Homo sapiens: one gene and its partners. The protein of the gene in region 1 purifies or fractionates together with the protein of each later gene. This does not show direct contact. Each region holds a gene or a part of one and is shown on either strand. Other genes may lie near its edges.

Region 1 (3,649 bases):
TGCTTCCTGCTCTTTCTCTATAAACCAAGCCAATGTTTAACTCTGGGCCCCGTGGTCAGCTGCTCCCACCTCCTTCCTCTGCCTCGTTGAGCTCCTTGGCAGCCTGCCAAGAGGGACAAAGTCCACACCTGCAAGGAGGGGCTACAGGCCCTAGAAGTGTGAGAGGGGTCGGGGTGGGAGGGAGCCAAGGGGGCCAGGTACGGACTGAGGAGTGCTGAAGGGCATTCTGCCTCTTCCCCTCCGCAGGTACCACCATCAAAAGATGAAGTTAGTCCTGGGGATGGGGGGTGGAGTTCACAGTAACCTGCACCCCCATATCATCCATACTAGTCTCCTCAAAAATTCTAAAATGTGCTGGCATTTTCTCCGTGAGATAGGAGAGACCATATCCCCGTCCCAGAAAGCAATCACTCTCTTGGCCCCCCTTCTCAAAAGGAGCACGCTCTGTGGTGTCACTTGTAACGTTCCAGCCAATTTCTTACGGCATAAACTGACGATCTTCCACTTGAGCAACAGAAGAGCGAGGAGCTTCCATGAGGAGTTATGTGCTGTCCTCGGCATGAGCCTGACCAACAGTGGGCCCTGAGTCATTAACTACACTTGGTAACACACTGTCACTCACTGCTAAATTAACCATTACTTTTATATGAACACACGAACAGTGCTTCTTATTTCTCTTTATTCTCTGCTATCTATAAACAGCACAGGGCTAATGGTTTTCCTTGCTGCCAAGGGAATCCTCTTTGTGTGGGCATCCCAGTGCACCTTCTTTACAGGCTGGAGCTGAGGGATCTTTCCCCTCCAGGCCCTTCTGAGAGGTCCTGCTGTGTGCCTCCTGTCGTGGCCTCACATGGGGACTCCAGTCCCAAGTTAATTCTGGGTGTTGAGCAACTTGGTCTGCCAGCAGCCAGGGTCCAGGCAGTTGGAGAGGTCTCAGCTGAAGGCCCGTGTTCTGAAGCACCCAGGACCTAGGTATGGGAAGACTGAGGCTCTGAAGAGGAGTTGGAGGGGACAGGGAGGAAGTCCTCGCAAAAGATGGTCTCCAGCTGGTGTCCTGAGACTAGTGGAAAACTTAAAAGGTTCTTGGCACGGGTAACTTCTGCCCCGAGTGAAATTTCAGCAACCTGGACTTAGAAATTAAGTGAAAATGTTGGCAGACGGTTTTTTCATCTGGGCTGAGATAGGCAGGAAGGTGATTTAAATTCCCCGCTGGCTATGGACAGTCCTATGACCAGAACCCTCTCCCGCTACCTTCTTCCCACATCACGCCTCCTGCGTTATCCAGCATCTCCTCGTCCCATGACTGGAACTTTAACTGGGCAGGCCCTAGTAGAAAATCGTATTTGCTTTCCCTCCTGGCAGCTGAGGGTGGAGGGCTGGAGGAATAGTTCAAATGTCAAGCTTCTTCAGCCGCCTCGCCAGCTCAGGGCCCCACCCCCGAGGAGTCTGGCCACTGGCACACTGTCACTGCTACGCAGGACTCACATGGCCCCCTTCCGCCCAGAAGGGAAATACACAAGGAAGGGGTGGATTTTACCTACTCCCACATTTTGCCCCAATAACCCACATTTACTATTTCCAATTCCTTTCTCCCATCTCCCCCATTATCTTAAATCCATTTCAATCAGTCATTGTCCCCAGCCCTCCACTGTAACCGCTCTTATCATCAATGACTTCCCAGCTGCTAAAACCAACAATCAATTTCCTTTCCTCATCTTCTTAACCTATCTGCAGCCTTTGCTGCAGTTAATTTCTCCCTCCTCCCTGATAGAATTTCTTCACTCGACTTTCCAAAACACTTCATTCTCTTGGTTTTCATCCTGCTTTACCAGTTTCTCATTTTCTGTCTCCTCTGCTGGTTTCCCATCTTCTCCCAGACCCACTAAAGGTCCTTACTTTCTTTTCTTATACCATCAAAATGCTAATGATCCCCAAATACACACCTCCAGCCAGATCTCTCTCACAAACCCCAAACTCACATTCTATTGCCCAGTTGCCATTTCCACATGGACATCTGATAGATACCTCAACTCAACTTTCCCAAAATTCACCTCCTTACTTTCCCTTCAAAACCTGCTCCTCTGGGGCTAGGCACAGTGGCTTATGCCTGTAATCCCAGCACTTTGGGAGGCCGAGGCAGGCAGATCACTTGAGACCAGGAGTTTGAGACCAGCCTGGCCAACATGGCGAAACCCCCTCTCTATTAAAAACAACAACAACAACAAAACAAAACACAAAACCTTGCTCCCTTCATGGCCTTCCACGTCTCAGTGAATGGCAGCTCCTTCCTTCCAGTCACTCAGGTGAAAACTCTCGGATTGCTTAGATGGGTGCTAGCAGTGGAGGGGATGAGAAGTGGTCGGGTCCTGCACATCTCATCGCGGGGGCTCTAGTCCCAGGCATTCGGGTGCTGAGCTACTCGCTCTGCCAGCAACCAGGGTCCAGGGAGCTGGAGAGGTCCTGAAGCTCCCAGGACCTGGGTGTTTGGGTAGAGTCAAGAGCTATGAGAGGTGGAGGAAATTAAGGATGACTCCAAGATTTTTGCCTTATAACCAGTCAGCTTCTGCCTTCACTCCCCTATACTCAGTTCTCAACATACCAGCTAGAGAGATTATTTTAAAATGTAAGATGACTGTCCGGGCGCAGTGGCTCATGCCTGTAATCCCAGCACTTTGGGAGGCCAAGGTGGGCAGATCACCTGAAGTCAGGAGTTCGAGACCAGCCTGGCCAACACGGCAAAACCTCGTCTCAACTAAAAATACAGAAATTGGCCGCGCGTGTTGGCGCGCGCCTGTAGTCCCAGCTACTGGGGAGGCTGAGGCGGGAGAATCACTTGAACCCAGTAGGTAGAGGTTGCAGTGAGCTGAGATTACGCCACTGCACTCCAGCCTGGGTGACAGAGCGAGACTCCATCTTGGAGGGGGCGGAAATAATGTGAGATTACTGCTGCCCAAAACCCTGCCCTGCATCTGAATGTCACTAGAGCAAAAGCTGAAGTCTGAGAGTGGCCAACCTGACATACCTGATCTGCCCCTCTCCCTGTCCCCAGCCCATTTACTTCCCTGACCTTACCTTCTATTCACTTGCCCAGCTCCAGGCTTGAGTCCTCCTCAAACAAGCCAGCCAGACTCTTGCTTCGTTTCAACCTTTGTTTCCTCTGCCTAGAGGAAAGCACTTTCACCCAACCCCATAATATCCACATGGCCAGTTCTCTCACTCCTGGCAAGGCTTTGCTCACATGCTCTCAATGACCACCCTTTTAAAAATTGCCACCACCCACACCCACACTCCTGATCCCCTTTACCCAGCTCTCCTTGTTCTTTTTCTATAGCACTCATTAATTCTGGAATGCTACCTAATTTACTCATTTATCCCATTTATTGTGTAGTGTCTGTCTCCCTCCTCTAGAATGTATGCCCTATGAGGACAGGGAATTGGTCCGTTTTGATTATAGATGTATCCCAACCACCTAGAACAGTTCCTGGCTTTTGCTACGTGCTCAGTAAGTATTTGCTGGTGAATGACACAGGCTCAGGGCTTGGCTGAGTATGCGCCGAGGCAATGGAAAGAGACTGGAAATTATAAAGCCAGTAGGATGAAGCAGGTGCCTGGGGGTGGATCAGCTGCAGGTCCTGGACAGCAGGGAGAT
Region 2 (3,649 bases), on another chromosome or scaffold:
CTAATCCACCAGATAGACTGTCCCATTGTGTATGGTGGCCCCTCCAGTTTCTGGGGCAAAGAGAATGTTTCTATGGACTCTGTCTCCATAACCCCTCACCCACAGGAGCCCGTCCTGTTTGGGACGACCATCATGGAAAACATCCGCTTTGGGAAGCTGGAAGCTTCCGATGAAGAGGTGTACACAGCCGCCCGGGAAGCGAATGCTCACGAGTTCATCACCAGCTTCCCCGAGGGCTACAACACGGTCGTCGGTGGGTGCTCGGGTCTGCCGGGAACCAGGTGGTGAGGCACTGGGACACAGGATTCCACAGGAGCAGTGAGCAGCCCAGTGGGACTGAGGGCAGCAGGGACAGCTGGGGAGAAAGACAGTTGTGTCAGGGAAGACGAGAACCACAGCCAAAGGGGACAGAGTCGTTGTGTGGGGACAGGGGAGTCCAGGCCAGTGTGGTTCAGAACCAGCAGACCAGGCAGGCTGCAGAGACAGGACGGGCTCTAGGAGGAGCTGGAGAATGCGACAGAGGGCATATGACAGGCTCCTGGCCAGGGACACAGTGATGCATGGTGTTTGGAGTCCTCACCGAGTCTAAAAGGCCGCCACTTCCCCAGACTGAACAGAAGAAATGGGGGGCTGCCTCCTCTCCACCATCCATCCCCCTCTGGCTCCTGTTTCCTTCCTGTGCTTTTCATCTCTAAAGTCGTTTCTCATTAGAATCGGGGTGACTGGATGGGCCCCAGGAGAGGGCTCTGGTGGTTCTGAACTAGGAACACGCAGCCTGGCACTGCAGGGCGTGCACCTTGCAGCTTGACGTGCGGAGCTCCCAGGTCTTTTTCCAGCCTTCGGGGCCATGTTTCTCGGCCAGTGTCTTGGCTCTGTTGCACAGTGTTTCAGCACTTCTCAGGATACAGGGATACCTGGGCTTCTCAACTCTGGTCAGTCTGAGTCCAGCCTTCTGAGCTGTGGGGCCAGTGTCCCCAGCCCAGCCATCGTGTTCTAGATGGCTCCTCCAGCCGTGTTGATACACTGTCCAGATGCCAGCTGTCCTCACTGGGTGCTCTCCCACATCTCTTTTGGGTGGCACTTTCCTTGTGTCTCTGATCCTAGTACTTTCTGCTCATTTGGGCCTTCTTGGGGCTGCGTCCTTACTGACCTGTCACCCTGCTGTCACCTTGAGGTTCTTTTTGGCTCCCAGGCTGCCACTTGTGCTGTCCTCTGTGGGCTTCGAATCCCACCTCCCTGGAGTCACTGGACCCCAGAGCCCATGTTTGGGTGCTGGATGTTCCCCACAGCCACAGAGACCCGGGAGGCTGGGAAGGTGGCTTGGAACTGCAGGCACAGGGCAGGGTGTGGGTCATCCTGGCCTGAGGCACTGCCATGGCTGGGGAGGGGCATTTGGCAACTCCCTTGGAGTGCACCAAGCCCTGCTGGCGGTGTCACACCACCCTCAGAGGCAGGGCAAGTGTGCACAGTGGCTGAGGGACCCAGAGGTGGGATGAGCCAGTGCAGGGGGAACCCAGAGGAGGAGTGTACACAGTGTGGGGTGGGGGGTCAGAGGCAGGAGGAGGGTGCACAGTGCGGGGTGGGGGTCAGAGACAGGACTAGGGTGCACAGTGCGGGGTGGAGGGTCAGAGACAGGACTAGGGTGCACAGTGTGGGGTGGAGGGTCAGAGACAGGACTAGGGTGCACAGTGCGGGGTGGAGGGTCAGAGACAGGACTAGGGTGCACAGTGTGGGGTGGAGGGTCAGAGGCAGGACTAGGGTGCACAGTGCAAGGTGGAGGGTCAGAGGCAGGACGAGCGTACACAGTGCGGGGTAGAGGGTCAGAGGCAGGACGAGGGTGCACAGTGCGGGGTGGGGGGTCAGAGGCAGGAGGAGGGTGCACAGTGCGGGGTGGGGGTCAGAGGCAGGAGGAGGGTGCACGGTGTGGGGTGGGGGGTCAGAGGCAGGAGGAGGATGCACAGTGCGGGGTGGGGGTCAGAGGCAGGAGGAGGGTGCACAGTGCTGAGAGGGGCACTTAGAGGATCTTGATGGGCGTTCAGGAAGGACCCTGTGCCCCTTTGTGGGCCACCCTCAAGTGCACAGCTTCAGGCTCCTGCCCTGCCCCTCCCTTCCCAGGTGAACGGGGCACTACCCTGTCTGGGGGCCAGAAGCAGCGCCTGGCCATCGCCCGAGCCCTTATCAAGCAGCCCACGGTGCTGATACTGGATGAAGCTACCAGCGCGCTGGATGCAGAGTCCGAGCGGGTTGTACAGGAGGCCCTGGACCGGGCCAGTGCAGGCCGCACGGTGCTGGTAATTGCCCACCGGCTCAGCACTGTCCGTGGGGCCCACTGCATTGTCGTCATGGCCGATGGCCGTGTCTGGGAGGTTAGTTGTCCTGGGGGCGTGGATCAGTGGGTTGAGGATGGCTTCATCACGGACAGTGGCACAATGCTGCAATGAGTTATATGAAGTTGTGGCCTGGCCCCAGGGCCTTGGGGGCTATATTCTGGAAGCAGCGTCCCATATAGAGTCAGGAGTTCCTGCATTCAGCCAAGCCCTGGCCTCTCAGGCCCTCAGTTTCTTCTTCTGTCCCCTGGGATAGTATAATTGCACCATCAGCTCCCAGGATCAAAAGGAAAAGTACTAGCCGGGTGCCTGTAATCCCAGCACTTTGGGAAGCCAAGGCAGAAGGATCTCTTGAGGCTAGCCTGGGCAGCATAGCGGGACCCTGTCTCTACAAAATACCAAAAAAAAAAAATTAGCCGGATGTGGTGGCATGCACCTGTACTCCCAGCTACTCTGGAGGCGGAGGCGGGAGGATTACTTGAGCCCCAGAGGTTGAGGCTGCAGTGAACAATGATTGTGCCATTGCGCTCCAGCCTGGCATCAGAATGAGACCCTGTCTCAAAAAACAAAAAGGAAACATACTCAGAGTATGGTGCTGGGAGCAAGGAGCAGGGCTAGCTGCCCAGGGTATCAGGTGCAGGAGAAGCAGCGCCAAGGAACCTGTGCAGGGAGTCAGGAGTAGGACCCCAGAGGCCGTGTGGCGTTGGCTAACAGCCACTCATTCAAGCCAAGGCTGAGGGGCTCGTGCAGGGAGACGGATCCTGAGTTGGAGCCTTGGGCTCTGTAAGGGGGACAGAGGGAATCATGTTCTTCCAAAATTCAGCTAAGTAAGGAAGTGGCAGTAACTAATGCAGCATGCCAGTGGCGGTTCCTTTCAGATTGGGCATTGGTTTCAGAGTGTCCCCAGAAGGGACACCGGCCTAAGTGACCATGGGCCCAATGGCTGATAGAGAGGCTCAGCTCTCTGAGGGTTCTGAAGCCTGCATGCCTTGGAGCAACCATCCGCCCTTCCCTCCCATCTTCCAGGCTGGGACACATGAAGAGCTCCTGAAGAAAGGCGGGCTATACGCCGAGCTCATCCGGAGGCAGGCCCTGGATGCCCCGAGGACAGCGGCCCCACCGCCCAAAAAGCCAGAAGGCCCCAGGAGCCACCAGCACAAGTCCTGAGAAGGGCCCCCTGAGGTGTGGTCGCTGCCAAGCATCAGTGTTAGGGCTGGGGCTCAGCCTGGGGGAGCCTACTGGGGACTGAGCCCCCAGGAGGGCCAGCATGTGGAGAGTCGCTGCGGCTGCTCCTGCTCACAATAAAGCCGGGGCCGAGCAGC
Region 3 (3,649 bases), on another chromosome or scaffold:
AGGAATATTTGGTTTGGGACTAGAGGAGATATATATACATATATAAAAAAGATGATTAACACTGAATCCTAGTATAAAGATAATCTTTCATCATCACATAAATTTTGTGTTAGTGCCTATTATATGATTGAATATTCTGAGCTGCTGTTATTAATTTCTGGAATTTCAGATTCATAAAATACATTTTTAATGCATCATAAAATACTCTCAAGTCTACTTGGTTTTTCTAAACCTTTATGCAACCAATACTCACTATTTGGAAAGTATATTATTTCAGTTTCTTTTCCTGTAACTTTGTGGTGTTCTGCCCTTCAACCCCTGGGCCACAGAGCATTACAGGTCCATGGCCCATTAGGAATCAGGCCGCACAGAAGGAGGTGAGCAGCAGGGGTTAGTGGCGGGGAGTGGGCTTTTCCACCTGAGCTCAGCCTCCTGTCAGATCAGCTGGGACATTAGATTCTCATAGGAGCACTACCCCTATTGTGAAGTGCACATGCAAGGATCTAGGTTGCATATTCCTTATGAGACTCTCATGCCTGATGATCTAAGGTGGAACAGTTTCATCCCGAAACCATTCCCCCCAACAGCCGTCCGTGGAAAAACTGTCTTCCACAAAACCGGTCCCTTGGTGCCAAAAAGGCTGGAGACTGTCATTGTAGCCCATTTATTTTACTCTCCTGACTCCCACCAGGATTAACACTATTGCAATACTTTAAGTGTTGAGCAGTTGGGTACCATACAAGAAAAAGATCAGATGTTAGTAATTAATACCACATGTAAAATAGCTGATTATATTAATAGTTGCAGTCTGAATTAAACACCAGTTGTGTTTCTCAGCTGAGAAAAATTCTGAGAAAACAAGCTATCTCAAACTCTGGAAGAGAACAAATTGCAAAATACAATATTACAGCTTGGAGAAACACTGGATAACACAATATCACATCTTAAAGTCAGAACATTATTTCCTAATATTTATGTAATAACAGAAATACGGTGAAATTTTATTTCACATTTAACTCTTCCACTAAAATTGTACAACTTCAGTTTTATAATTTCCAAACTTCACAGGACAATGAATCCAAAGGCCATTCTCCACAACTCTAGCTCGAAAATAAAAGAAATCACAAAACAAAGAATCACAACTCTTTCCTATGCTAAGCCAGTCAGGCTAAAAATAGCCCCCAAATTTCAGGTATAATACCAATTCAGGTTTAAATGGAATAAGAACCAAGGATTCTCCAACAATGCACAGCTAAGGTCAAGAGCAAAGCTGGATTCACCTTAGGGTCTTCACAGATGCATCAGAATAAAAAGATCCCTTAGGAAATCAGAGAAAACAGTGCAATAAGTAAACAATGGTGAATTATTCCAGTTAATATACATGATCCTCTCATAAGTATATTTACAGACCATTATTCTACTTGAACAGTGGAACAGAGCAGAATCATCTTATTGAACTTTTCTGGTATATATTATTTCTGAATATACAGTGGAATTACAGATGGGCAAACGACATAACAGTACTCTGTCTCCAACATTGAACAGAGACGCATTTTAGTTAAGAGACTGTGGTAGCAGCTGCCCTCCTTAAAAATGGACCCCCAAAATTTCCAACTTTGAAACCACGGCCAAATTTTTACTGATACTTACAAACTTTCAAGATAGCATCAAAGGTCATACAAATTGAAACAGTCAACAAAGTGCCATGAAAATCAGCATTATTGTACTATTACAGACAAAGCTTTCTTTAAATGTATCTAGTTTAGGAATTAAACTTTAAGTAATATTAATGAAATCATAATATCAAGTAGTAAGAGATACAAAACAAAATCCAAGTCCCTCTTGCATTTATAATTGGTTATATCAAAGTAACAACCTAATCAGATTTTTCCCTGTAGGAAAAATTAAGACAGAATTTCATTCCTAACTAAAAGCCTCAGGTTCAACTTTTTTTTGTCCCATTGCTCTTAAACACAATATTTAACCACAATGTACTTACTATATAAAATGTCTAATGAACAGATAGTAACCAATCCTTTAAGGGTAATTAATATGATGGTTTAAATTTATCACTGACAATTTCATCTCCGTAATTTTTCACTTTAATCTTAATTTTTCTTGAGGAAATATTCAACATTCATTCATTCAACAGATATTTAGTGAGGCCTACTAAGTATCAAGCTCTATTCTAGGCTCTGGGAGTACACCTATGAGGCCCATCCTCAGGAGTTTACTCTATTAGGGAAAAACATGTAACAAGCAAATAAATATATACATAACACATGGAGGTGGGAACAGCAGGATCAAGTACTACTTTCACCAGGTTGACTCTTCAATTGCAAGAAATCCATTTCAGAGCTGCTGTCTCATCCAAACTAGTAGATTTACCAGGAGTTGTAAAGCTAACCCAAGTCACAGTTATCTTTTAATTATATTCTCCAATCTTTTCCCCTCTTAACTTTTCACCCTTTAGTGGTATCATTTTATTCTGACAAAAGACCTCAAGGCTCCCACTTTGATGGCCTAAGTGGTACAATGCTAAATTTAGCGCTGATAGTGATTTCTGAGGACAGGTTTCCCAACTGACTCACCACTTCAACACTAGAACTTATCAGCATGTGCCTAGTACAAAGTAGGCATACTCTTGTTTGGTGAAGAAATCAATCCATAAAAATCAATCTCCAGCACGAGTTATAACAAAAGCCTTATAAACATTATCCTTAATAACAGCTTTTCAAGGATTTACCAAGTCTGATTAAAAATAAAAGATTTTTCTTCCCACAAATGTTTGGGAATATGTACAGACAAATGACTGGTAACCCTCAAATAAATCATCTTTTTCAAAACATTTTTTAGAACTTTGCTTTAAGGCGGCCGGGCCCAGTGGCTCATGCCTGTAATCCCAGCACTTTGGGAGGCCGAGGCGGGCGGAACATGACGTCAGGAGATGGAGACCATCGTGGCTAACCTGGTGAAACCCCGTCTCTACTAAAAACACAAAAAATTAGCCAGGCGTGCTGGCACGCGCCTGTAGTCCCAGCTAGTCAGGAGGCTGAGGCAAAAGAATCGCTTGAACCCGTGAGACAGAGCTTGCAGTGAGCTGAGATCGCGCCACTGCACTCCAGCCTGGGCAACAGAGCGAGACTCTGTCTCAGAAAAAAAAAAAAAAGAGAGAACTTGCTTTAAGGCATTCATTGAAATCGGTTTACCAACCACACAAGAAACTATCCCCTTTTTTCTCTTTCACTTCTTTTAGTCTATTCCCTGTCTCCCCTGTAACTGCACCACTAGCCAGGAGACTCCCCTCCTAATTTCCCCTCAGGACCCACCCACCTATCCACCAAGAAAATAGTGAGCAATAAAACTACATGGAGCCTAGGATTTACATTCATTAGTACAAGGAATATACAGAAAAAAAAAAAAACCCGATGTACTACCACTATTTCTATAATGACTGGCAATTTACAAAGTTATACCCTCCATCATCTTATATGATCTTCATAACAATGTAAGAACAGCAAGAAAGGTGCTATTACCCCAATTTTACACAGAAGGAAATTAAAAGCTTAGAAAGTTCAAACTAGTTCCCCAAAATCCCATCATAAATAAGTGATAAAGTTGAGACTCATCCCTTATAGTGCTTAACATA

What was found.
Region 2: the proteins of SLC6A13 (region 1) and ABCB8 purify together in Homo sapiens (affinity purification with mass spectrometry; one large-scale study listed by BioGRID and IntAct). This does not show direct contact.
Region 3: the proteins of SLC6A13 (region 1) and SNX13 purify together in Homo sapiens (affinity purification with mass spectrometry; one large-scale study listed by BioGRID and IntAct). This does not show direct contact.

The regions. Positions count from the first base shown.
Region 1 is NC_000012.12:252,780-256,428, forward strand, and holds part of SLC6A13 (sodium- and chloride-dependent GABA transporter 2), read right to left. Parts: intron 969-3,649; exon of another isoform or gene 663-968; intron 1-662. UniProt on the Homo sapiens protein: Mediates sodium- and chloride-dependent transport of gamma-aminobutyric acid (GABA). Mediates transport of beta-alanine. Can also mediate transport of taurine and hypotaurine.
Region 2 is NC_000007.14:151,041,856-151,045,504, forward strand, and holds part of ABCB8 (mitochondrial potassium channel ATP-binding subunit), read left to right. Parts: intron 1-105; coding exon 106-253; intron 254-2,115; coding exon 2,116-2,366; intron 2,367-3,353; coding exon 3,354-3,494; 3' UTR 3,495-3,649. UniProt on the Homo sapiens protein: ATP-binding subunit of the mitochondrial ATP-gated potassium channel (mitoK(ATP)). Together with pore-forming subunit CCDC51/MITOK of the mitoK(ATP) channel, mediates ATP-dependent potassium currents across the mitochondrial inner membrane.
Region 3 is NC_000007.14:17,930,390-17,934,038, forward strand, and holds part of SNX13 (sorting nexin-13), read right to left. Parts: intron 1-3,649. UniProt on the Homo sapiens protein: May be involved in several stages of intracellular trafficking. May play a role in endosome homeostasis. Acts as a GAP for Galphas.